7 linked regions of the Homo sapiens genome follow. The protein of the gene in region 7 purifies or fractionates together with the protein of the main gene of each other region. This does not show direct contact. Each region holds a gene or a part of one and is shown on either strand. Other genes may lie near its edges. The genes, in order: RAB15, TTC27, HEATR6, PCK2, RHOF, CRYBG3 and SLC22A11.

Region 1 (3,500 bases), on a different chromosome or scaffold from region 7:
AATTCATTCATTCAAACTGTTATTGAATGCTTACAATGTGCCAGGAACTAAGCCAGGTACTAGAAGATAAGCTATGAACAGCACAGAAAGATCCTTGTCATCAGAGCTTAATTCTAGTGGGGAAGACAGATGTAAGTAATGAATACCTAATTTCAGAGAGCCATATGTGATAAGAAGCAACTGCGGGATAAAGTAGAGAGTGAGGAGACCCCAAGCACAAGCAACCTTAGACTGGCTGGCCAGAGAAGACATTTTAAAGGAGGTAACATTTGAGCTGAGACCTAAATGACAAGAAGGTGCCAGCAGGGAGATCCAAAGAATCAGGTAGAGGAAGCAGCAAAGATCCTGTGGCAGGACACATTTCAGTCAAACTCACAGTTCCTAGGAAGAGGGTCAACAGTACTCTCTCCTTTGTTACAAAAGGGGAACTGCAGCAAGACCCCTCCCTTCTCTCAGGTCTTGTGTGGACCCTCACATGTGCACCTGCATCTGTACTGTTTACTGCGTGTCTTCTAGCATCTGGTTTAGTTCCTGGAACATAGTCAGCATTCAATAGCACTTACACTTGTCTGGAGGCGTGAACCTGAAGAATACACCAAGAAACTTCTCAAATGCCAGCAAGGCCAACTTCAGAACTCCCTGCTCCTATGTGATGCTGAGATCTCTATACACTGAATAAATGGCATGCGTAAAGCCCACCGTCCCTGTGTAGGTAGTAGGTACATAGTAAGTATATGGAGTAGATAATCAGGATCAGTGTTCCCCTTCCCCACTTTTTTTTTTTTTTTTTTTTTTTTTTTGAGACAGGGTCTCACTCTGTCACCCAGGCTGGAGTACAGTGGTACGATCTCGGCTCACTGCAACCTCCACCTCCTGTGTTAAAGTGATTCTCCTGCCTCAGGCTCCCAAGTTAGCTGGGACTACAGGCGTGCTCTACCACACCCAGCTAATTTTTGTATTTTTAGTAGAGACGGGGTTTCACCATGTTGACCAGGCTGGGTCTTCCCCTTGCTTTTCCCACTGCCTTGTGCACAGACCTCCCTAGAGCCTTGGTGACATGTGCAGTGTGCTCCAGCCACCCCATCTCGCTCCCCATTGGCAGCCCCTGGAACTGGGTCTCGCCTCCCTAAGCCTGCTACTTAGGCCAGCGGGCACCACAGAGGCAGCCAAGACCCACCAGGCTACTGACCACTCACTCCTCCAGCCTCCTTCTCAGGCAGGGCTGTGCTGACTGGTAGCAAAAGGTTCAGGGAAGAAAAGACTAGGACATAGAAACTCAGGAGCAAACATCTTAGAAAGAAGGGGGCTTCCAGATGCACCTGCCCTCACCCAGAGCCAGCAAAGCAATCTCCTGGCAAGGGGCTTCTTGAACTTCAGCTGGTGTGACCATGGTGTGGCCACTCCAGCTGGCCCCAGCAAGGCTGAAGAGTAGCAGCCCCACTGGAGGTGTTCTCCACAGCACCTCCTACAGGGAAGAGGATGTGTGCTTCCCCCACACCCAGGGCCCCTGGAGAATCCTGCCTAGTCTTCAAGACTCCACTCAAATGTCACTTCCTCTTCAAAGCCTTCACCAGCCTCCCCGGGAGGGATTTCTCACTCCTCTGTGATTCCAAAGCATCCTGACATTTCTTTTGCATAATATTCTGCTTGTTTGGATGTCTGGTTCCCAGCTACACTGTAAGCTCCCAGAGGGCAAAGCAGCATCCTGTTCACTTCAGACTCTCACTGCCTGGCAGCAGGTAGATCACTAAATATTATTCAACAAAGTAGAGTAAATGAAAGCAAAAATGAATGAGCAAGTGAGACGAATAAATGGATGAATGAAGTCAGTACATATCTAGAGAAAAGATGGGCAAAGAGAAAATTTTAATCAGGGAAGAGCAATTAGAAAATAACCCACTTTTAGGCCGGGCGTGGTGGCTCATGCCCGTAATCCCAGCACTTTGGGAGGCCGAGGTGGGCGGATCACGAGGTCAGGAGATGGAGACCATCCTGGCCAACATGGTGAAACCCCTTCTGTACTAAAATACAAAAACTTAGCCCAGCGTGGTGGTGCGTGCCTGTAGTCCCAGCTACTCTGGAGGCTGAGGCAGGGAAATCACTTGAACCTGGGAGGCAGAGGTGGCAGTGTGCTGAGATCTCCACTGCAATCCAGCCTGGTGACAGAGCAAGACTCTGTTTCAAAAAAAAAAAAGAAAAAAAGAAAAAAGAAAGAAAAGAAAACAAACCACTTTTTTTTGTTTTTATTTTTGTTTTTGAGATGGAGTCTTGCTCTGTCGCCCAGGCTGGAGTGCAGTGGTGCGATCTCAGCTTGTGGCAACCTCCACCTCCTGGGTTCAAGCAATTCTCCTGCCTCAGCCTCCCGAGTAGCTAGGATTACAGGCACCTGCCACAACACCCGGCTAATTTTTTGTATTTTTAGTAGAGATGAGGTTTCACTATGTTGGCCGGGCTGGTCTCAAACTCCTGACCTTGTGATCTGCCCACCTTGGCCTCCCAAAGTGCTGGGATTACAGGCGTGAGCCACCGCACCCAGCCATAACCCACATTTCAAAGCCAACTGTTAGCCCTTTCTATAGTTCATGGTGCCATGGTCACAGAGTTCTCAGTAATTTTTTTTTTTTCCTGAGACAGGGTCTCACTCTGTCACCCAGGCTGGAGTACAGTGGTGTGATCACAGCTCACTGTGGCCTCCAACTCTTGGGCTCAAGCAATCCTTCCACTTCAGCCTCCTGAGTAGTTAGGACTACAGGCACATGCCACCATAATCAGTTAATTTAAAAAGTGTTTTTGTTTTGTTTTCTTTTCTTTTCTTTTTGTTTTTTTAAGAGATGGGGTCGGCCAGCCATGGTGGCTCACTCCTGTAATCCCAGCACTTTGGGAGGCCGAGGTGGGTGGATCAGCTGAGGTCAGAAGTTCGAGACCAGCCTGGCCAACATGGTGAAACCCCATCTCTACTAAAAACACAAAAAATTAGCCAGGTGTGGTGGTGCATGCTTGTAATCCCAGCTACTCAGGAGGCTGAGGCAGAAGAATCGCTTGAACCCGGGAGACAGAAGTTGCAGTGAGCCGAGATCGAGCCATTTGCACTCCAGCCTGGGCGACAGAGCTAGACTTCATCTCAAAAAAATAAAATAAAATAAAACAGGGCTGGTGATTAGCCCCTTCCTCCTCAGTGGGAGGAATTACGTGTCCAGGAAGCCCTGTGTTCCCCTTGACAAAGCTCACTGACCAGAGAGAAGAGCCAAGGAGAGGGCAGAGGCCTATACAGAAAACTGGCAGTTTCACAGGGAAACTGGTGCAAAGATTGGATTACAGAAGAAGGCACTCTGAGAAGAGCTGGCAATCAGGGTAGAAGGATAATGGCCAAATATCAGCTTTCATGTTATAAAGCTCATCACCAGCCTGTCTGGGGAGCGGGGAGAAGGAAGGAGGAGGAGGAAGGAACAGAAACCAGGGAGTGCAGGTAGGCGGGAGGAACCGGTGCTCCCAGCTGTGGG
Region 2 (4,117 bases), on a different chromosome or scaffold from region 7:
GAAAAACAGTTTTTAATTACTTCTCAGTGGGAGGACATTTTAGGGCATCCGCTCTTCTCCAATCACAGTCAGGTCCGGCTTCCTTTGGTATCTGATGGCAATGGCTGAAATGAGCTGAGCTGAGTTCCTCTCCCTTCACATTCTGGAGTGGCTCTTTACTGAGTAAGAAAGTGAATTAACATTTATTTAGCTTCTTCCTTGGAGCTGGGTACCGGGTCAGCCTCTTTTCAGAGAGCTTTTGCTCTTGTGGTCAGAGTTACCCTGCAGTTTTCTCCTGGCTCTTACATGACATATCTCAGTACAGGTGTCAAGCCAATGGGACAAAGCCATAGTCCTGTTTTCCTTCCCTCCTTCCCTCCCTCCCTCCCTTCCTTCCTTCTTCCCTCCCTCCCTCCCTCTTTCCTATTGCCCAGGCTGGAGTGCAGTGGCACCATCTCAGCTCACTGAAACCTCCGCCTCCCGGGTTCAAGCAATTCCCCCGCCTCACCGTCCCGAGTAGCTGGGTTTACAGGGGTGCCCCACTACGTCCGGCTAATTTTTGTATTTTTAGTAGAGACGGGTTTCACCATATTGGCCAGGCTGGTCTCGAACTCCTGACCTCAGGTGATCCATCCGCTTCATCCTCCCAAAGTGCTGAGATTACAGGCGTGAGCTACCGCGCCCGCCCTCTAACTGTTTCTTTGGAGTGCTGCTAGGAAGATTCAAAGAAGTGCAAATAAGGTACCAGCGGAGGCTGGTTTGTCTCCTTGCAATTTCTTTGTGATCACCCCTGGGATCACTCTTCTACAGCGTTCCGACAGTGTTCCAAAAACTTCCCTGCACCAGCGGCAGGGGCAGATTTCCCACCCGGCCATGATTCATGTAGAGCAGTGTCAAAACCAGATCCTTTCCTTACACGCTCATTCGCCGAAAGACCCATGCTATGCTGACGGGGTTCCAACCTGGGCTTCACCGACTCCACGTCAGAGGGTCTGTGATTCCCTGAGAGGGTACCCTTAGGCTGAGAGCAAGGGCCCACCTGCACTCTGCGCGAAGGACTGTGGTTTTCATCGGGTTGTCGAGAGCGTTCTAACCCAAAATGCTTTAAGAATCACAACTCTAGCCCTTCTAATCAAACTGCTTTGGCCAAGACGTCCGTTTTGAGTTGCATTTGAACCCTAGCCCTCGGTGGGAGGCACACTCACTTCCACGTTCACAGTTCTTGGAAGCGGTCCCACTGGGGGCGGGGCTGAGCGCGACCGCGCCCTCAACTCCCCCTATTGCCCGCCCCGGGGTGGGGCATAACCACCCAACAGGCTCCTTACTCAAGCTCGGGTTCTTCTCCTAGGCGGAAGCCAGACCAGAGAGCGTGCGTGTTTTTCCCAGGGTGCCCCGCGCTGCTGTTATGGCCGCCTCCTTGAGGTAGTATCCGCACATGGAATTCTAGGGCCGCAGGTGTATTTACGGTAACTGTCGCCACTAGATTTCAGCGCCTTTGGACTCTCCTGTTTTCACTTTCTTTTGTTGACTCCCGTGTGGCCCTCGTGGGAGCCTGTTTTGGCTGCAGCGGTGTCTGGGGTGATGTGGACCCCGGAGCTGGCAATTCTGAGGGGATTCCCCACTGAGGCTGAGCGGCAGCAATGGAAACAGGAGGGGGTCGTCGGTTCAGGTGAGAGGCGCACCTACCGGGCCTTAGGCTATCGTGGGAACTGTGAGGAAAAGGGATGGCAGCGACTGATTCTCATCCCTCCCTTCATTTTTCCCTAACACAGTCTAGCTGATTCCTTGAGGCTTTGGGTCGTTTAGTCTTTGACATGGTGGGCGTGGTCCTCACTTTCTTTGCGCAAAACTTCTTACCGCCCAGGTTCAGTAATAATGACAATGGCAATGTCAGTTATTTTTCTAAGCCCTTAACATGTACTCAGTCATTTAATGCTTATAGTAGATACTTAAGGTAGATTCAATTTTTAATCCCATTTTGCGGTGAAGATCTGTAAATACAGTTGGGTTAAGTAATTTTATTTTATCTATTTATTTATTTATTTATTTATTTATTTATTTATTTATTGAGACGGAGTTTTGCTTTTTGCCCAGGCTGGAGTGCAATGGCGCGATCTCGGCTCGCTGCAACCTCCGCCTCCCGGGTTCAAGTGATTCTCCTGCCTCAGCCTCCAGGGTAGCTGGGATTACAGGCATGCGCCACCACGCCCGGCTAATTTTGTATTTTTAGTAGAGTCGAGGTTTCACCATGTTGGCCTAGCTGGTCTGGAACTCCTGACCTCAGATGATTCGCCTGCCTCAGCCTCCCAAAGTGCTGGGATTACAGGCCTGAGCCACCGCGCCCGGGTCTGGTTAAGTAATTTATTTAAGGTCACACTGTTGGTAAGCAGAGGAGCTAAAATGAGGCAGCAAAGTTGTTTTTTTGGGGGGATGGAGTCTCCCTCTTGTTGCTCTGGCTGGAGTGCACTGGTGCCATCTCGGCTCACTGCAACCTCCGCTTCCCCGGTTCAAGCGATTCTCCTGCTTCAGCCTCCAAAGTAGCTGGGACTACAGGCATGCACCACCATGCCCGGCTAATTTTGTGTTTTTAGTAGAGACGGCTTTCATCATGTTGGTCAGGCTGGTCTGGAACTCCTGACCTCAGGTGATCCACCCGCCTCGGCCTCCCAAAGTGCTGGGATTACAGCCATGAGCCACCATGCACGGCCTAGGCGGCAATGATTTATTTTTTTTATTTTTTTGAGACAGAGTCTCGCTCTGTCGCCTAGGCTGGAGTGCAGTGGCGCGATCTCGGCTCACTGCAAGCTCCACCTCCCGGGTTCACGCCATTCTCCTGCCTCAGCCTCCCGAGTAGCTGGGACTAAAGGCGCCTGCCACCACGACCAGCTAATTTTTTTTTTTGTATTTTTAGTAGAGACGGGGTTTCACCGTGTTAGCCAGGATGGTCTCGATCTCCTGACGTCGTGATCCACCCACCTCGGCCTCCCAAAGTGCTGGGATTACAGGCATGAGCCACCGCGCCCAGCCTAGGAGGCAAAGATTAATTCTTGTGAGCAATGAATATTTACCAGAGAGATAAAGAGTTAAAAGGCACATGCACTGGCACATCTGGTTGTGGGATTTAGGCTGGACCCAAAAGAGTAATAATGAACAGTGTAGTGTGTAAGTACTCTGTGTGTATGTGTGTGTGTGTGGGCACTTGTGTGACACAGTAGGTGCTTCCAGTGACAGGAAGTTTGAACTTTGGTGGCCTGGAAAACTTTCCTAGAAGAAGTTAGACTTGAGCTGATTTTGGATTAAAGGGTAAGACTAACAAGTGGAGAAGAGTTCAACAGGCGATATCACAAGTGCAAAGTGTGGAGGCAGGAATACGCATGGGACATTAGGGAAACAATGAGTAAACCAGCGCTCTTGGAGTGACTTTTCAAGAAGAGAAAATAATGGAGGTAGAAAGAACCAGATTGTGAAAAGTTTTAGAACCTTGACTAAGGAAACTTTTGTATTGTCAGTAGGAATCTTTGTGAATTTCCCAGCAAAAGACTAAATACCTATTAATGAGGAATATTATTTCTGGGGCTGACTTCCACTTTGGGGCTCATAGTCAGTATGAGTGAGCTGCTAATTCTAGGAGAGAGAATGTTTGTAGAATGATGGAAATTTACTGAGTGCCTTGTGACTGACATACAGTAATCATTCTAAGTCTATAGATTGTTTTTGCACACTAAAATGGTAGATTTACCTAATAGTGTTATCCTTTACGGTATGAAAAATAATTTTTTTTGGATTACCGCACTAATTTTTTATATTACAGAGAGTGGATCTTTCCTACAATTGCTACTGGAAGGGAACTATGAAGCCATATTCTTAAATTCAATGACTCAAAATATTTTTAATTCAACAACAACCGCTGAAGAAAAGATTGATAGCTACCTGGAGAAGCAGGTAGTAACATTCCTGGATTACTCAACAGATTTGGACACAACGGAAAGGTAGAATTTTATTTGAAATTTTCATAGAGGAACAGAGCAAATACATTTAATAGCACCTTGACAGGGTAAGGCCCTGATTTTAGCAGTTGAGAAACCTTGCCTTATATTTTACTCAAGACTCATGGTGTACCAAGTAATCTATGTAAAAA
Region 3 (3,500 bases), on a different chromosome or scaffold from region 7:
GAATGGAAAGAAATGAACTAATGTTCCAAAAGTCAAAAATTTTAGCACAATTTTGGCATCTTAAGGGGAAAATCATGACTATCACAGATGAAAACAAATGTCATTGAAATTGGTTATTTTTTTCCACTAAGTTACAAAATCTATATAGAAATTTGATACTATATCAAATTGTACTTCTCACAGTTCTGAGTTAATTTCCTTTAAACTCTGTTTAACATATCTTTGTTGTTATAATTGTTACTTAAGATACTGAATCTGGTACAAGTTTTGCTTCTTTTGCTCTTATATCAATATTTAATATCTGGTTTACCAGTCCTAATCAGCACTTTCAGCAGAAATTACTAACGTGCAAGTAAATCATAACAGGTGTAGCTCTTCAGAGAGCTCATTTTGTTAAGTTTTCATTGTCTGAATATTTAAAATGATGAATGAAAGGCTTTTCAGTCTTACAGAAGTCAGTGTGCTTGGTTTTACTAGTGTATAGTTTCACCTCCTTGGACATGAAGACTTGTCTAAAGCTAATAAAACAGAAAAGTACTTTTCCTTTTTTGCTACTTAAGAACGTAGCACAAATGTTTGCTGAGGTAGCCTAGTCAATCCTAATTTTTTTCCTCTTTATGTGTGTTTGGTCTCAGAATATTTCTGGAAGGGTGACAAAGAAGTCCCTGCTGGGAGTAGGTACATTGAAGTTTCCATGCAGGGCACATGACTGTTCACATGTTATTTTATTGGATCTCACTTCCAAAGTCAGTTGTCTTTTACGTAACAGCATTTCAACATTGTGTCAGGGACTCTGGGTTGGGAGGTATCTAAGTGATATGGTTTAGCTGTGTCCCCACCCAAATCTCAACTTGAATTATATCTCCCAGCATTCTCACGTGTTGTGGGAGGGACTTGTGAGAGGTAACTGAATCATGGGGGCTGGTCTTCCCCCTGCTATTCTCGTGATAGTCTCACGAGATCTGATGGGTTTATCAGGGGTTTCTGCTTTTGCTTCTTCCTCATTTTCTCTTGCTGCCACCATGTAAAGAAGTGCCTTTTGCCTCCTGCCATGATTCTGAAGCCTCCCCAGCCATGTGGAGCTGTAAGTCCAATTAAACCTCTTTTTCTTCCCAGTCTCGGGTATGTCTTTATCAGAAGCGTCAATACAGATACACTAATTAAAGACTGCCTGTTCTTTGCTAATACACTAAGCAAAGATTGCCTGTTCTTGGCTGGCCATATGAGAGAAAATCTACCATTCCATAACAGTTAACAATTCCAACCTTTTCATTCTCTTTTCTAGTTATACCACTATTATCTAGATTTCGATTTGTTTTCACTTTTTATAGTTATCTGAAACAGCAATAAATCATCATCATGAAATTTGTAAATCAGGATAATTCTCAAGGTACCAAGACAAAGGTTTGCCCTGTAGTTTGTTTCTTAAGACAAGTCTTGATGATATTCTCCATAATATGCGTTTATAACACCTAAGGAAATCATATCCAAGAAATTCTTAAATTAGTCTTGTTATTTTTATTGATAATTTGTTCTGTCCCTTTTGGAAGTGTATAAGATGTGCTCTATGAAGCACATTTCCAACATGGAAATGTGATCATTTCCCAAGTACCACAGCACTGCCAAATCCGAATGGACATTTCTAAGTTTTCTTCTCCCCAATTAACCATTCTAGCATATTATGTTTCAATTTCCTAAAAGTAGCCTCTGTTTATTGTTGGCATTCTGACTGGAAGAGTCTAATCACCTTTCCTTCTGTCCATTTGTCTTTAGAAAATTTCTTAGTACACCAGTTAAAATTGTGCTTCCAGCTGAGTATGCCATGGGTCATATCAGACCTGCCATAAACTCAAAACTAATCACTAAGCACTTCAATGACAAGATAAACTACAGTTGTCTTATTTAATCCTGGCTAAGAGGAACTCCAGCCATCTAACTCTATATGCACAAGGAGCACCTGAGATGACCACTTGGCCTGGAGTCATGGCAGCTCTTTTAACCTGGTCAATCCAGAATGCTGTTCCATTCTAATTACATGATCTGTTATTTTTAATTTTAATGCACATAACTTTCTAGAAGTCTTTATTTTAAAAGCCTGTCCCACTGGGCCGGGTGCGGTGGCTCAAGTCTATAATCCCAGCACTTTGGGAGGCCAAGGCAGGCACATCACCTGGGGTCAGGAATTCCAGACCAGCCTGACCAACATGGAGAAATCCCATCTTTACCAAAAATACAAAATTAGCCAGGCATGGTGGTGCATGCCTGTAGTCCCAGCTCCTCGGGAGGCTGAGACAGAATTGCTTGAACCCGGGAGGCAGAGGTTGCAGTAAGCTGAGATCTCACCATTGCACTCCAGCCTGGGCAACAAGAGCAAAACTCTGTCTCAAACAAACAAACAAACAAACAAACAAAAGCCTGTCCCATGACATCACCTACCACAACACTTTTTTCTAGCATATGTCTTGGTGCACAGTTAATCACACTATGGACAGACTGCAAAGGTATGCTCCAAGCTCTGTTGTAAACAATAATTACCACACTTATTTAAACCCTTCCAAGCTAACACTTGATTAAAAGAATCTCTTAAGTACGATCATTTCACTTGCCATTACACTGAACTAATTTAATTTCTTTCATCTTTTAAAATCCACTTTAAGTAGGATGACTTTTTTTTTTTTTTCTCTAGGATTTTCTTGTGGCTTTTTGTACTGGATCTACAACATCTCCAGAAGGAAGTTCTGTATCTTTTTTCCTCAGCACATCTCTTGCATTCACCAAAGTTAAACAGCAAGAACAAGTCTAAAAGGTACCTAAATCAAGGAGATGGATAAGACCACTTTGCAATAGGTGAAATTTCTCATGGCACTTTAAGTGAAATGTAAACATTTAAAAATATATGAAGATATAAACATCATGAAAATTATTCCAATTCATTTTCATCAGCTATGACCTCATAACCTTTTTGTATTCCTGTTCTAAACCCCCGTGTCCCACATCCCCTTGGCTGGGCAGCTGTGATAAAGGTGATAAAGCTGGGCTGCTTCTTGCTCCACAGCACCATCTCGTTGGCCACTGCTGGCAGCTCCCCTAGCTGGAGGGTCTTCAAATATATATTTTCAATATTTTTAGTAGCTTTTATTTCAATTACTCTAATGGCTTCATTACTGATTTATTTGCCACCACTCATTTTTCCATTTTTCTCCTAGGTTCTCATTCACTATTGATTTAGTTAATTTGTAAAATTTCTGCCAGTTTAATTTCCTAGGATAAGGAGTATTTGAAATACCCCACAAGTCATTTTTTTGCGTGTATATAAAATTGAGGCTAATTTATTTTTCTTTACCTTGTAAAAGCTTCTGATGGGTCATCCAGAAATTTTCTTATATAGTAAGTTACTCAAGGAGATGACTCATATGGAATTCCAACGTATTGTGGGTTACCACCCCTGACCCCTTAAGGAATAATCTTAAAAACAGAAAAGGAACAATATGCTGTTGGCC
Region 4 (3,500 bases), on a different chromosome or scaffold from region 7:
GTGGATAGTGCCTTCTCCCAGCAATTCCTATGTCTGTGACCCAGTGCTAGAGCTACCTGTAAAACAGATCTTTGATTGTGCCAGGCTGTGCTTCTTCTAGGGGCTGGAAGAAGATGATTGTGAGACAGGTGTTAGAGGGAAGCCTGTGAAGATAGGTGGGAAATGAAAACAGCACAAATCTTGTGTAAAATAGATAAGCATCTCTTATTATTGGACAGTCTTTGTGGGAAGGTCTATGGCACATTGAAGATGTTAGTTAATATCAAATTGCTCATATTTTCTGCAAGGTGCCTTCCCTATTCCCAGATGAGGGTGCTATGTCCTCTTGCTAGACTAGGGCCTCAGGTCACATTTTGTGCACACGTCTCTCCAGGGCCTCAAGCTCAGCCAACACCTCTTTGGGCAGATCCTGGTTGACCTGCTCTGTCAGGTAGCTCCGAATGTCACGAACCTCCTGTTCCCAGAAGTCCTTGGGGAGGGAGAACAGCTGAGTGGTGTCTATAGCTCTGAGGCCGCTGAGATCCAAGGCTCCTTCCTTTGGCACCAGCCCAATGGGTGTCTCTCGGGCACTGTCCTCCCCCTCTAACCGCCGGCAGATCCAGTCTAGCACCCGAGCATTCTCCCCAAAGCCTGGCCACAGGAAGTGCCCTGCCTCGTCACGCCGGAACCAGTTGACATGGAAGATACGGGGCAGCTGGGCCCCCTTGCGCCCTTCCATGCTCAGCCAGTGTTCCAGGTAGTGCCCGAAGTTGTAGCCAAAAAAGGGCCGCATGGCAAATGGGTCGTGCATGATGATCTTCCCTGGGGGGGAAGCAAGATGGGTAAGGAATCTTCCTTCTCACTGGGGTAGGGAAGGGCACCCTGCATCCAGTTGGAGGAAGCTGTGAAAGGCTTATGGTTCTGAATATCTTCAGGGATGGGGAAAAGATAGAAGTGGGAAGAGGTGGGGCCATATCAGACTCCAGGGGTGGACAAAAGGAAGGTCTGGCTCAGGAAGGGAGAGAGGACGTGCTGTGTGCACACACAGGAGAGGGAGGAATGGTGAGGGTGCTCACCTTTGTGTTCTGCTGCAGCAGTGGACTCAGAGCGCATGGCGCTGCCCACAAACACCCCATGACGCCAGTTGAAGGCCTCGTATACCAGGGGTACCCCTAGATCACCAATGAACAGAGTCACAGGCAGCCCTTTTCTTTGGACCCTAACTCCAGCCCTTCTGGTGAGCTTGACTGGTACTCTCTCTCCTAAGACCTCGGCTATCCCATTTTCAGACCCTTTGCCTCCTCCCAAGTTTGCATTCACCAGGGGAGAACTCTGGAGAAAGGTGAGATCCAGGCTGAGGCTCTGGATCAGAGGGAGGGAGGTAGGCCCTAATACAGAGATAGCCCTTTTGCCAAGAACATGGAGCTCATATGTTGTTTACCTTTGGGTCTGCGGCCACCAAAGATGATGGCGTCAATGGGGACACCCTCTGGGGCCTCCCAGGCTGGGTCCATGATGGGGCACTGGCGAGCCGGGGCACAAAATCGAGAGTTGGGATGTGCACAGGGCTCCTTGTCACCTGGCAGAGGAAATACAAACACTATTATTTCCAAGGTCATGTCGACCCCCAACACACACATACATGGGCACACATTCTTGCAGGGTTCTTTTTTTTTTTTTGCCTCATCAGCTGCCTAGAACCTTGTGTGATAAGGAGCAGAGAGAGGGGAGCCAGGGCATCTCCAAGAGCTCAGGTTGTTTAGCCATGAAGGTGCGGCCAGCTGAGCTATGTGAGAAAAGAGTGGGAGAGGAATTGGGGTTTGGCAGGGCACTAATGTTTGTGCCAAGCTACTGGCACTTGGCACTGACCAGGGCTCAAGGGAATGGGGTTAGATATGGGCATAAGGTTATAATAATTTTTCCCCCAGAAACTATTTCATTATTTGTGAGATTATTATTTAAATGAATACCCAAACCTAAAGCAAAAACTGAGAATGTCAGCTTAGTACTTCAGACAATTGACTTTCCGTCAGCAAACCGGGGAAGACAGGTTCTCCTAAGTTATCCAAATGCAAATAGGAATTTATTTTATCTTTTTATTTTTGAGGCAGAGTCTTGCTCTGTTGCCCAGGCTGTAGTGCAGTGGTGCAATCTTGGCTTACTGCAACCTCCGCCTCCCAGGTTCAAACAATTCTCCTACCTCAGCCTCCCCAGTAGCTGGGATTACAGGCACCCACCACCATGCCTGGCTGATTTTTTTGTATTTTTAATAGAGATGGGGTTTCACCATGTTGGCCAGGCTGGTTTCAAACTCCTGACCTTAACTGATCTGCCCACCTTGGCCTCCCAAAGTAGTAGGATTACAGGCATGAGCCACTGCGCCTGGCCTGATTTTATTTACTTAATTAATTTAGTTATGAGACGGAGTCTCACTCTGTCACCAGGCTGGAGTGCAGTGGCATGATCTTGTCTCACTGCAACCTCTGCCTCCTGGGATCAAGCAATTTTCCTGCCTCCTGAGTAGCTGGGATTACAGGCATGAGCCACCATGCCTGGCTAATTTTTGTATTTTATTGGAGACGGGGTTTTGCCATGTTGCCAGGCTGGTCTCGAACTCCTGACCTCAGGTGATCCAACTGCCTCGGCCTCCCAAAGTGCTGGGATTACAGATGTGAGTCACTGTGCCCTGCAAGGAATTGATTTTAAAGCTAACAACATGTTGGTGATTTCCCTGCCCTGCTTAGACCCTGATGAAGTGATAGGGCTGGAAAAATAGAGATAGGGATATCACATGGGTAGGGATAACCTCAGGAGCCCAGGTCACACTTGGCACCTTCAGGTGTCCTGGAGGGGGGTTGGGACTAAGTCAGTGGCACATGTATGAAGCACCACTGTGTGGCCCCTGAGTGGACATGGTGCCTTCTCTGCTGGAGGTTGCTGGTCAGACCTGGGGAGTGGGGAAGCCACGGGGCCAAAATCCCCACCCTCTCCCATCCGCCAGCTTCTGCCCGCCATTGCAGATAAGAGCCATCCTTCTTCAGCACCCAGTGCAGAATCCTAACACAGGGTATTATTCTGGGAATTGAAGCTGGGGACAAGATGCCCTAGTTATGCCCCCAAATCTGGAGATGATGAAAGGGTTGGGGAACTAGCCTGTGGGGAAAGATGAAAGTTTCTTGGATTTCTCAGTTGGGTGGGAAGGCTGAGGGGGGCTTAATGATGGTGTTAGTAAAAATAAAGGGTGATTAGATGAAGCAAGGAGGGTGACTGCTAGGCCAGCCTGGCAAACCTGAATATAGGCTTCAGTGACTACAAGGCCAGCCTCCCCTCCCATGCTCTTCTTTGCCCCTGCCTCTTGGTGTCTGGACTGCCTGACTGCAGAAGGCCATGGAAAGAATACTGAAGGTCCAGAGTGCAGGGCTGAGGGAGAGGTGGGACTCCCAGGCGCCCAGGGTAATGACAGGATTCAGAAACTAGCTTCTGGGAAAGACTCAAGCACTGACCTGATTTTGTTTGTAGGA
Region 5 (3,500 bases), on a different chromosome or scaffold from region 7:
TCAAAGGAAGGAGTGGTTGAAGAGGGTTAATCGTCATCTCTCTGGCTTTAGGTGCCCTGCAGCCTTGGCAAGGGCATTCCACTTCCTGACCTGTGTTCATTCAAGCAGCCACCCTGGGAGGTGCGCTGGGTGGGGACAGTTCTTCCTGTTAAGAACGCAAGTGGTGGAGGGGGCCTTTGTCAAGGTCAGAGACAAGCACCCTGTGAGCCAGAGGCCAACCAGTCCCCAAGGTCAGCTGCCTGCCAGGCCATTCTAAAAGCACCAGTTCTTCCAGGAAGCTGTCCCCAGCCTTCCCAACCGGGAATTAACCTCTGGGCCTCAGTTTTCTCATCTGTGAAATGGAGATGTGAAAAGTGAGCGAGCCTTGATGACAGTCATAATAAAGATGGTTAATATCGACTCTCTTTCTCTCATATAAAAGTCATGGTCTAGACCGGGCGCTGTGGCGCATGCTTGTAATCCCAGCACTTTGGGAGGCTGAGGCGGGCGGATCGCTTGAGGTCAAGAGTTCAAGACCAGCCTGGGCAACATGGTGAAACGCTGTCTCTACTAAAAATACAAAAATTAGCCGGATGTGGTGGCATATGCCTGTAATCCCAGCTACTTGGGAGGCTGAGGCAGGGGAATCACTTGAGCTGGGGAGGTGGAGCAGAGATTGAACCACTACACTCCAGCCTGGGCAACAGAGTGAGACTCTGCCTCAAAAAAAAAAAAAAAAAAAGGGGGGGGGGGCGGGGTTTGCTCTGTTGCTCAGGCTGGAGTGCAGTGGTGTGATCATAGCTCACTCCAGCCTCAACCTCCTGGGCTCAAGCCATCCTCCTGCCTCAGCCTCCTGAGGAGCTGGGGCCGCAGGTGTGTACCACTGTGTTACATGCCAGGTCTAGCTCAAAGCCCTTCACCTGGATTAACTCATCTTTCCCCCAAAAGCCCTACAAGGTAGACACTATTGTTGGCCCCATTTTACAGGCTGAGAAACGGAAGCACAGAGAGCTGGAGTGACTTGCCCCAGGCCACACAGCTAAGGGGAAGCTTTGTAAATAACAGAGGACCTTACTGGAGTATTTTTTTTTCTTAGCCTACCCCAGAAAACAGGAAGGAATCCTCACCCTACTTGTCCCAGCCCTGACCAGGTGAGGAAAAATGTCAGCCCTCTCAAGAAAGAGGGCCTCTGGAAAGGGAGAGGCAGCCAGCTCCGACTCCAGCACCTCCTCCAGGTTGCCTTCCTGGCTTGACTCTGCCCAACCCAGCTTTCCCTAGAATTCAGTGTGGGCCTTTGGGGCGTGGGGGTGGTGGGGGGACCAGGCCTGCAGAGGACTACTTCCGTGTGCACCAACCCCATGCCCACTTGGGGATGGGGGAGCGTACTATTAATAAATACCTTCTCTCATATGAGTCAGGAGGGTCAGGTTCCATTCACTCATGCACATTCTGGGCAGGACTGTTCAGGGCAGCCTCCACATCTCGAATTGACGCCCACATTTCCCTCTCTGGGTGTCAATTTCCTTATCTGGGAGAGGGGGTGATAACAGTGATAACCCTCCCCCTAATCTGGAAGGTGAAAGCCCAGGAGAAGGGAGGCAATGCTTAGAGCGGGAGCAGTGCAGGGGCAGGGGTGGAGTGGGGGGCAGTGCCGGGAGGCAGGAGGACTGCTATTGTGGTTACTGTTGAAACTTCCAGGAGAAGTTAATAGCCTGGCATGGTGGGTGGTCAGAACCCCAGAATCTTTGGACCCAGAAGCTTCAGGGGCCTCCCAGCCACCAGGTGATACCATTACCCTCCACATTCTACCTAAAATGATACCAGGGCTGAAAGGGTCCATGTCACCTGCCCGTAGTCACAGAGGGGGCCCATCCAGCCTCTGCAGATGGGCTTAGAGGTTAAAACAGCCCAGGTAGACCAGGCGTGGTGGCTCACACCTGTAATCCCAGCACTTTGGGAGGCTGACATGGGAGGATCACTTGAGCCCAAGAGGCTGTGGCTGCAATGAGTTATGATCATGCTATGGCACTCCAGCCTGGGTGACAGAGCGAGACCCTGTCTCTAACCATTCCCCACCTCAAAAAAAAACCCAGGAATTACATGCAAAGGATGCACGTGCTTCTGGTGAGGAAGTCTCTAGGCCTGGGCTCCCCCTAGAGCCGCCCATCGTCCTGACGTGCACTCAGGCGGTGCGGCAGGGCTGGGCGGAAGGGAGGCTCATGCCGCACACAGGGCTATTTTCTTGGTGGGATGAGGCTTTGCCAAGGAAGTCCTGCTTCCAGGGACAGGGGTCTCTAAGGCCCAGAGCAGAGTTGAGGAAAAAAGACCTCAAATCTGCAGGAGGACACACAGGGCGGGTGGACCCCAGCTCCAGCTGCGGCGTTGGTCAGGGAGGGGTACTGGCAGCATGAGAAGTGAAGCTGCCAGAAGAGGAACCCACTTTTACTCACTCTGCTGGGGGCCGCCCACCTGTGCTTTCCCAGGGAGACAGGGGCTGGGCAGCCCCAGCTGGGAGTTGAGACCACCTTCTGGGTGACCCCAGCCTTGTCTCAGCCCAGGCCTCCGGTGCTTCTGGGGCTCACAACACACATCTGTCCCTGGTTCCTTGTCTTAGCAAATCCTACTCCATTGCCTAACAATTTTCTTTCTGTTCCCATCTCAGGCTGAAAAGGGGACCACCGCTCCCCGGGCAACCCCTATCCCATCCTGTGCCCCTCTAACCCTGGACCCCACACCTTGGCCCTGATGAGCTCACTCTCCCGTCTGTGTCTTCACAGCCCACCTCACCCCGCCTCCCCCGGCCCAGGAAACTTCAGACTTCACCGCAGCTTCCTGCCTCAGAGGATGTCAGGGCCCCGGTGAGGCCGACAGAGCAGTGAGTGCCATGGCCCCCGCCCCTTCCCTTCTGAGCCCTGCGAGCCCCGTCACCCGATCTGCCCTCCCTCCGCTGTGGTGTCTGTAACTACTTCCTCAGGAGGGAGACAGCCACACGGGCCTTCCACGAGGGCCCCTGTGGGCAGCGTCCGGCCCCTGCCCAGGACCAGCGTTTGGTCCTGGGTGTGGAGAAATTCAGCCTCTGAGAGCCACCCCTGTCTCACAGCTCTGGTGGCCACCAGTCGGGAAGATGCCCCTTCCGCCACTGTGTGTGGCCCATTGGGTTCTAGAACTTTCTACAACTACGTTTACTAGACTCATTTCTGGCTTGGCCATTCCCTCACCCTCTTGGCCTTTGCCTCTCTCTACGTGGCCGCCTGGCCATGGCTTTCTGTCCTGTTCTCCTGAGAGCCGTCCACCTGCAGGCCGAGATGAATCATCTCCGGCATTCGGATCCACTACCCATTCATTCCATCACCTTCCAGGCCTTGCTCCATGACAAGCACTGGGACCTGGGCTCTCCCTGGTGGCACTCACTGACCAGGGGATTTCCTCCTATGAGCAAGCCTTCCCTGGTCACGGGGGGATACCCTACAGGGAGCAGCCAGATCTCTTCTCCCTGGGTGCCCCTCCTTGGGGTCTGTCAG
Region 6 (3,500 bases), on a different chromosome or scaffold from region 7:
TTACTTTTAAGAAGAGCAGGAGGAGAGCCTAAGGCATCTACCTCTGGTTCTGGCTTATCTTCATATTTGGAGGCAGCAGGAGAAAGCTCAGCTTGGCAATTCTCTTTAAGGCCAGCATCTGAACATTTCTCTCCTATCTCATTATGATTAATTGATTGAAAACGTTTGCCCTGTTCAACTTCTAGAAAGGTTAATTCTGACAAAATAGGCTTTTCTGGAACATGGGTAATTTTCAATGGAAAAGAAGACATTTTATCCTGAGAAATGTTTCTGGGCTCCACTTTTGAAAGAGATACCTTGGACAAGGATATAGTTTTTCCTCTTCCAGAATGTGACTCCACAAGAACATTGTTCTGACCATCAATTTCAGCTTTTGATACAATGTTAGCAGTTTTGGCTTCCAAGGAAAGAGAATCAGACTTCTCTATTATGCTCATATTTGCTTTAGTGTTTGAAGACACTAACTCTACTCTATTAGGGTCTTGAGATAAAATGGAACTGCAATCCTTAGAGAGGTTTCCAGAGTCAAAGCTCAATAGCTCCAACCCAGTTAAGTGAGGGCCACTGGCTTCAGAACCTGGAAGAACCTGGCATTTTTCACTATTAGAAAGAACTTCTTTGAATTCAAAAATTGCAGATGTATATTCAAGGCAAAAGGAAGGAGGAGGACTCTTCCTGCCTGCAGCCTCAACATGGTTTTTCACATTTTCTTCTTTACACTTCCTAGGCTGATAGGAAATACCAACAATGTTGACATTCCCAGTTTCAATGGGCACAGGAGAACCCTCATTCATTAAATCAGGAATATCCAACTTGCTCAGCATCCCAACTCCAGAAACAAAGGTAGGAGGTGAAATACTGAAATTTAGTTTTTTACAGTCAAGGCTAAGAGATGTTTTAGCATCAGGTGATACTTCAGCTTGTTGAGGACTCTCAGAGTCAAGAGGAGTTTCTGAAATGTGACTTCTATTAAGTTCAAATTTCAACTCAGGTGCATTTTCATTTCCTAAGCTTGCTACAACTGCTGATTCACTGATGTAATTTAAAGAGGCCAGGTCTTTTTTATTCATTCTAATATGAGGAATTTTATCATGTGACCTAAAATCAAGCTTTTTGGCTTTGGTTTCAAAGTATTGGTCAGTATCTTTGGGTAATGACTCAATTTTATCTTCTGGAGCTTTTACATGACTTGAAGCTATGGATTCACCAGCTGAGGCACTTTCTGTTTCTCGCCTGATTTCTCTAACAGCCACATTTTTCTGTGAGTCTTGGGCAGACAATCTCTTTCCTTCATTTACAAATTCTGTGTCTGTCACAGCATGTCTCTGAAGAGCAATGATATTGGTGTGAGTGGCAGCTTGCTTTGATGAGCTATCTATGGTTTGCTTGTCAGAACACTCACTCTCTGGCAACTGCAGATGTTCATGCCTAATTGATTTATTTGGACTTGGCAAATTTGTACTTTCCTGCTCAGTAGTGTCACTCCCATCAGATTTACTACAAGAGAAATCAGAAATAGCAGGGCCCTGAGGCTCAACAAGCTCCTCTCTTTGCACCAATGTCCTATTACTCATCACAGTGCTGTTTTCTTTTATCGTATTTTCTGTTGTAGTTACTCTCTGAAAATCTGGGCTGCAAGGGACTTTGCGATGGTTACTTCCTGTTAACAATGCTGAACATACCAAATTTCTGTTAGTCTGAGAAACCGGTTCACAACTTAAATGGTGCTGTGAGTCAGATTCTCCATCGTAGCTGGAGTTAGTCACAGAAGAAGGGGATGACCTATTTCTCTCAATACTCCCCCAAGCATTTTTATTTAAAAGATTATTGGAAGAGGCAATATTCTGCAGTTCTGGGTTATTTGTCAAAGAATTTTCCTTGTTGAAACTTGTTTTGCTACAATCAGAGTCTTCTAATGGGCCTTCAAGTAGATTTCCTTTCATAGATGAGTCTGTACTAGCTGATAACAACAGTGGCAGTACCCCAGCCTCAATCTCACTTCCAGGGTCAATGTGTCTGTTTGTACTAGAGTCAGAACTTTCATTTTCTCTGTCCAAGGTATTCACAGTTGCCAAGCCTGTCTGTTGCTTTAAATATTTCCCAATGTGTCTTGGGCCTCGATATGTTGCATATGTTACTGAAGGCTTCTCTGGTTTACCATCGATTTGTCTGTAAAAAGAAAGCATGAGAGTATCAGGAAATATAATTAATAATACTTAATACTAATCCCAGCAACTGTGGTAAAAGTACATCTTTTAAACACCACTTCCCTTAATATGTACCAATTTGGGGAGTAAATCCTAGAACGCTTTAAATTTACCTTTATTAAAAATAATAAAAATTTAACAAGTAGCACCTGAATGTCAATGCAGCATGAAGAATGTTTGACCTCCTTAGAATTACTCCTTCTTACCTGATTACATACATACCTCTGACTGTGGTTAACAGAATATGAGTCCAAGCCTTGGGTCCTAGTTCTAATCTCAAAGGAGTGTCTGACTCTAAGTAACCAGCTTGACTTTGGGCCTCATATTACTACGAGTTTAGGGATACATCACTGACTTCTCCACCACATTAAAGCATCATAATGACCTTCTATTCCTTTACTCTTACATGTGAATTTGAACAGCAATGTTTAGCACGTAACTTGGAAACGTTTTAAATGAAAACAGATGGCAAAATGTCTAGCCCACAGTAAACACTCAGTATGTATTTGTTAACTCAATAAATGACAAAACTGCATTAAAATTCTCTGTGTTCAGTTCTTCAAATATTCATTTAGTATAGTATTAAACTGCTTGGGCAAATGCAAAAATCAAAAAAGATGTCTAGAGTAAGTATAGAAATCTAACCACAGTATAAAGATCCTGATGCTCTCAGCACCCAATTTCCTTTGGAGAATCTACCACTACGAGTTCTCACATCACGCCATACTATCTTATAGCCAATTACACACATCATTCTCTGCCCTTTAATGCCAGCATCAGAAGGAAACTCTAATGCCCTCTAAGACTCAGCACACAAATAATTTCCACTGCAAACCTATCCCTCTACTACTAAGATGGACAGTTAGTCTTTGATCTCTGGGTGCACAGAGCACAACATTTGTCACATTAAATCATAAAGATCTATGCACTTATTTATTTTCCCCACTAGCCTGGTGGCTATTTGAGGGAAGGTACTGTGTCCTAATCATCTTTCTGTTTTTAAGTGCCCCACACAAGATTTGGCAAGTTGTATATGCTTAATACCTTCTCATGAATTAATGAATAAGTAAAGGAATGATACTTACTGCTAAGTAATCTATTTCAAAAGAATGTCTTAATTCTTATATGTGATAATCAAAATGTTTTACATTTTGAACTCTAATTACCTTTCAATTTCCTGACTATAAAAAATAGCATGCACTCATATGTTCATCACAGCACTATCCACAATAGCAAAAACATGAAATCAACCTAGATGTCCATCAATGGTAGATTGGATAAAGAAAATGTGGT
Region 7 (3,500 bases):
GCCCAGATGACCTTGGGTCCCGGGGAGGGCCAGGGTCTGGTCGCGCGGGCCCTGGCAGTGACAGTGCCGGTAAGCCAAGTGTTAGCTCAGCCCGGTTCCAATGCAGGCTCTATTATTTTGGGCTTGTTCCTTACCCCTCTGGGATCCTCTTTCCCCATCAGTGAAGTGGGGTTGCATGGAGGGGTCAGCGAATGCAGGTTCACCCTCTAGGAGCATGGCCATGGTCTCTAGGAAAGTGGTAAGTCTCTAACGATGACACACAGTGGTACTCCTCGGCCGTGGCTGGTCCCCTGGCTCTAGGGACCCTGGCTCTGCCTCTGTCTTGGGACCTCCCTGGGACCCTGGGACCCCCAGCCTAGAGCTGCCTTTTCCTCTGGCTTCCTGCAGATGGCAGCCTCCAGATCCCACCTGTGCATAGTCCCTCTCTGCTGCCTGCCAGGACTCCTGCCTGCTGGGGCTGTCTGCGTCCTGTCCCAGACAGAAATGCACCCCCTTGAGGCCTGCGGGTGCTGTTTCCCCTGGACGCTCTGCCTCCTGCCTGTCCCAGCTCTGCCTCCTGCCTGTCCCAGCCCTGCCTTGGGGAGGGACACCAGGACGGCGTACTTCACCACCAGCATGGCGCAGCTCCTCCAGCGGAGCACGGGCACGCAGAACAGGTCCAGCACCGACCGCGGCTCCTTTGCAGAGGCCACCTCCTCCTTCACGCTGGACATCAGCACCTTCCGGGGAGAATGGGGGCACCGTGAATGGTAGGGCAATGGCCCTGCCCCACCCCCTGTGCCAGAGAACAGTGTCCAAGTGGCCAGAGTGACGGGGAGCCTGTCCTGGGCCTCGGCCTCTGGAAGCTGGATCCCTAGGGGAAGGGGAGGGGATGGGGCAGAAAAGGTTCTCTCCAGGCCCTGGCTCTTCTGCAGGTTTGACTCAGCCCTGGTCCTCTCAGCTCTAGCTTGCCTCCTTCTGGAAGCCTTCCCTTATCCTCCGACCCCATCTTCACTCTAATCTCTGGCAGCGCCTGTTTCCTGAAAGCAGCTACCTTCAAATAAACACATTCTGTTTCCCCAGACACATCGAGAACCCCCATGAGGTGGGTGCGTGCTACATGCAGGTGGAGGTGGTGGGTGATGGAGGTGACGGTGTGGGTGCTGTTGATAATGATGGTGCTGTTACCGATGGTGACGATGGTGGTGAAGGTGGTGGAGATGTTTTGCAGAGATGGTGGCTGTGGGGTTAGTGATGGTATTGGTGGTGCTGGTGGTGATGGAGTGATGGCAGTGAAGGTGATGGTGGGTGTGGACAGTGGTGGTGCTGTTGGTGATGGTATCGGGATTGGTGGTGGTGGTGGTGGTGTCTGTGTGGAGGTGGTGATGGAGGTGTTGGTGGTGTCTGTGGAGATGCTGGTGGTGGTGCTGGTGGAGGTGGTGCTGGAGTGGGTGGTGCTGTTGGAGGCCACACGGATGATCCCTCAGTGCACGTCCTGTCCCAGGTCAAGTCTCGCAGACAGCAGCATCTCACCTCTATGGTCAGGTTCTTGGCCTCCTTGTGGCCATTTATCCTGGCCACCTTTCTGAGCTCCTGAAGTGCTTGGTCTGGTTTGCCCTTAATAATCAGCCACCGGGCGGATTCTGGCAGCCACCTGTAAGGAGGCAGGTGTGTAGCTGGGAGTGCACGCTGGGCTCTCCCCCGGGGCGGGGTGGAAAGGGGCAGTGGGCACGGACCCTCCAGCTGAGATGAGTGATGAGGAAGCACATGCTTCTGTGCCGCTGCTGCCCAGCCAGGAGCCTGGCAGTCCCCAGCGGTTTCAGAATAAAGCTGAGTCCCAATGCCTGGCCGCCCACCTTCCCAAGCGAGCCACCTCCATCTGGCTCGCCTGGCTGCCCGGGGCCTGCCCACCTGAGCCCTGCACACAGCCAGGGCACAGGTGGCCTGGGCATGGGTGTCCCTAGAGTTGGCTGCTTCACCAGTGATTCTGGGGCTATTTCTAGGATAGAAAGGTCACTTGGTGCTGGGTTTTTTTGTTTTTTTTTTGAGATGGAGTCTCACTCTGTCACCCAGGCTGGAGTGTAGTGGTGCGATCTTGGCTCACTGCAACCTCCACCTCCCAGGTTCAAGTGATTCTCCTGCCTCAGCCTCCTGAGTAGCAGGGTCTACAGGTGTGCACCACCATGGCTAATTTTTTTGTATTTTTAGTAGAGATGGGGTTTCACCATGTTAGCCAGGATGGTCTTGATCTTCTGACCTTGTGATCCACCTGCCTCAGCCTCCAAAGTGCTGGGATTACAGGCTTGAGCCACTGTGCCCGGCCTTTTTTTTTTTTTTTTTTTTTTTTTTTTAGCACATTTAAAATATCCCCAGGCAGAACCAGGTGATTTTATAAAACCAGTCTATTTCTCCCCAACCTCAGGGGCAGGTGGGCCAGGAGAAACACTTTCCTGGTGGAAGGCACAGGATCTGCCCAACCCACCGGCTCTCAGCCCTGTTTGCAGGGAAGCTAAGAAGGACTTCTGGAGGCAGTCTGACGTAGTGGTGAAGAGTTAGCCTGCCTAGGTTCAAATCCTGCCTCTGGCATTCACCGGCTGTGTGTGACCTTGGGTGAGTGACCTAACCTTTCTAGGTCTCGGTCCTTCATTTGAAAATGGTGGTAATCGCATCATCTTACTTATTAGAAGGTGTGTTAATACGCACCTAGTGTTATAAACTGCACCTGGTACACACCTGATCAGCGTGGCGGGGATGGCCTAATTATTGTAATTATGGGATGGCCTTCCTCTTCACTTATTGATCTGTGTATGAAACGTAAGCTCCACGGGGCCACTGGTTTTTGCCTGTTTTGTTCACTTGTGTGTCCCCAGCACCTAAGACCCTCTGCACCTGTCTGTGTCTCCTTCCTCAGTGCCAACCCAAGGAGGGATTTCCAGACCTTAGGGATTTTTGCGGCCCCTAAAATTGTAGTGACAACAATCTATTTTCATATCCAATGTTGGTCCGCACTGTATGTGAAGGAGTGAAGCTGGTGGGTGGGGGCTGGTGCAAGTATTGAGGAAGGACGATGCTCACAGCCTCAGCCCAGGGGACAGCGGCAGTGGGGCCTTGGGGACCGGGAGAGCGGCCGCTTCCACTGTGGCCGAAGTTCAGCCCAGTGCCCCTGGATCTTCCAGTTTTTCCAAAGAAGGTAAAAAATACTGTTTTTGTTTGTTTTTGAAAATCTTCTGATTTTTAAATGTTAGCAACTAGTTACAAATGTATTTTTTAAATCACCATTTGAGCCAATGCTGTGCCAGCCCATCTTGGCCTGTCTGGGCTGGATGGGAGCCACGGACCTCGGGCTGCAACACTTAGCCCAGGACTGCCAATCACCAATGTCCCTCCCTAGCGAGGGTGCCGCTCATGCCATGGCCCTTCTGTGGCACTCCAGGTCTCTGGACCTACTGCCAGCCAGAGAGGTGAAAGTGAAGAGTCCCCCTCCCACCCTGGGTCTCCTAAGGAAAAGGTCCCACATCATA

The links.
Region 1: the proteins of SLC22A11 (region 7) and RAB15 purify together in Homo sapiens (affinity purification with mass spectrometry; one large-scale study listed by BioGRID and IntAct). This does not show direct contact.
Region 2: the proteins of SLC22A11 (region 7) and TTC27 purify together in Homo sapiens (affinity purification with mass spectrometry; one large-scale study listed by BioGRID and IntAct). This does not show direct contact.
Region 3: the proteins of SLC22A11 (region 7) and HEATR6 purify together in Homo sapiens (affinity purification with mass spectrometry; one large-scale study listed by BioGRID and IntAct). This does not show direct contact.
Region 4: the proteins of SLC22A11 (region 7) and PCK2 purify together in Homo sapiens (affinity purification with mass spectrometry; one large-scale study listed by BioGRID and IntAct). This does not show direct contact.
Region 5: the proteins of SLC22A11 (region 7) and RHOF purify together in Homo sapiens (affinity purification with mass spectrometry; one large-scale study listed by BioGRID and IntAct). This does not show direct contact.
Region 6: the proteins of SLC22A11 (region 7) and CRYBG3 purify together in Homo sapiens (affinity purification with mass spectrometry; one large-scale study listed by BioGRID and IntAct). This does not show direct contact.

The regions. Positions count from the first base shown.
Region 1 is NC_000014.9:64,962,337-64,965,836, forward strand, and holds part of RAB15 (ras-related protein Rab-15), read right to left. Parts: intron 1-3,500. UniProt on the Homo sapiens protein: The small GTPases Rab are key regulators of intracellular membrane trafficking, from the formation of transport vesicles to their fusion with membranes.
Region 2 is NC_000002.12:32,626,733-32,630,849, forward strand, and holds the start of TTC27 (tetratricopeptide repeat protein 27), read left to right. Parts: upstream 1-1,317; 5' UTR 1,318-1,560; coding exon 1,561-1,648; intron 1,649-3,790; coding exon 3,791-3,968; intron 3,969-4,117.
Region 3 is NC_000017.11:60,061,922-60,065,421, forward strand, and holds part of HEATR6 (HEAT repeat-containing protein 6), read right to left. Parts: intron 1-3,500. UniProt on the Homo sapiens protein: Amplification-dependent oncogene.
Region 4 is NC_000014.9:24,100,811-24,104,310, reverse strand, and holds the end of PCK2 (phosphoenolpyruvate carboxykinase [GTP], mitochondrial isoform 1 precursor), read right to left. Parts: intron 1,559-3,500; coding exon 1,421-1,558; intron 1,152-1,420; coding exon 1,056-1,151; intron 802-1,055; coding exon 347-801; 3' UTR 186-346; downstream 1-185. UniProt on the Homo sapiens protein: Mitochondrial phosphoenolpyruvate carboxykinase that catalyzes the conversion of oxaloacetate (OAA) to phosphoenolpyruvate (PEP), the rate-limiting step in the metabolic pathway that produces glucose from lactate and other precursors derived from the citric acid cycle.
Region 5 is NC_000012.12:121,787,189-121,790,688, forward strand, and holds part of RHOF (rho-related GTP-binding protein RhoF), read right to left. Parts: exon of another isoform or gene 2,967-3,500; intron 1-2,966. UniProt on the Homo sapiens protein: Plasma membrane-associated small GTPase which cycles between an active GTP-bound and an inactive GDP-bound state. Causes the formation of thin, actin-rich surface projections called filopodia.
Region 6 is NC_000003.12:97,870,511-97,874,010, reverse strand, and holds part of CRYBG3 (very large A-kinase anchor protein), read right to left. Parts: intron 2,170-3,500; coding exon 1-2,169.
Region 7 is NC_000011.10:64,562,441-64,565,940, reverse strand, and holds part of SLC22A11 (solute carrier family 22 member 11), read right to left. Parts: intron 1,634-3,500; coding exon 1,513-1,633; intron 720-1,512; coding exon 604-719; intron 1-603. UniProt on the Homo sapiens protein: Antiporter that mediates the transport of conjugated steroids and other specific organic anions at the basal membrane of syncytiotrophoblast and at the apical membrane of proximal tubule epithelial cells, in exchange for anionic compounds.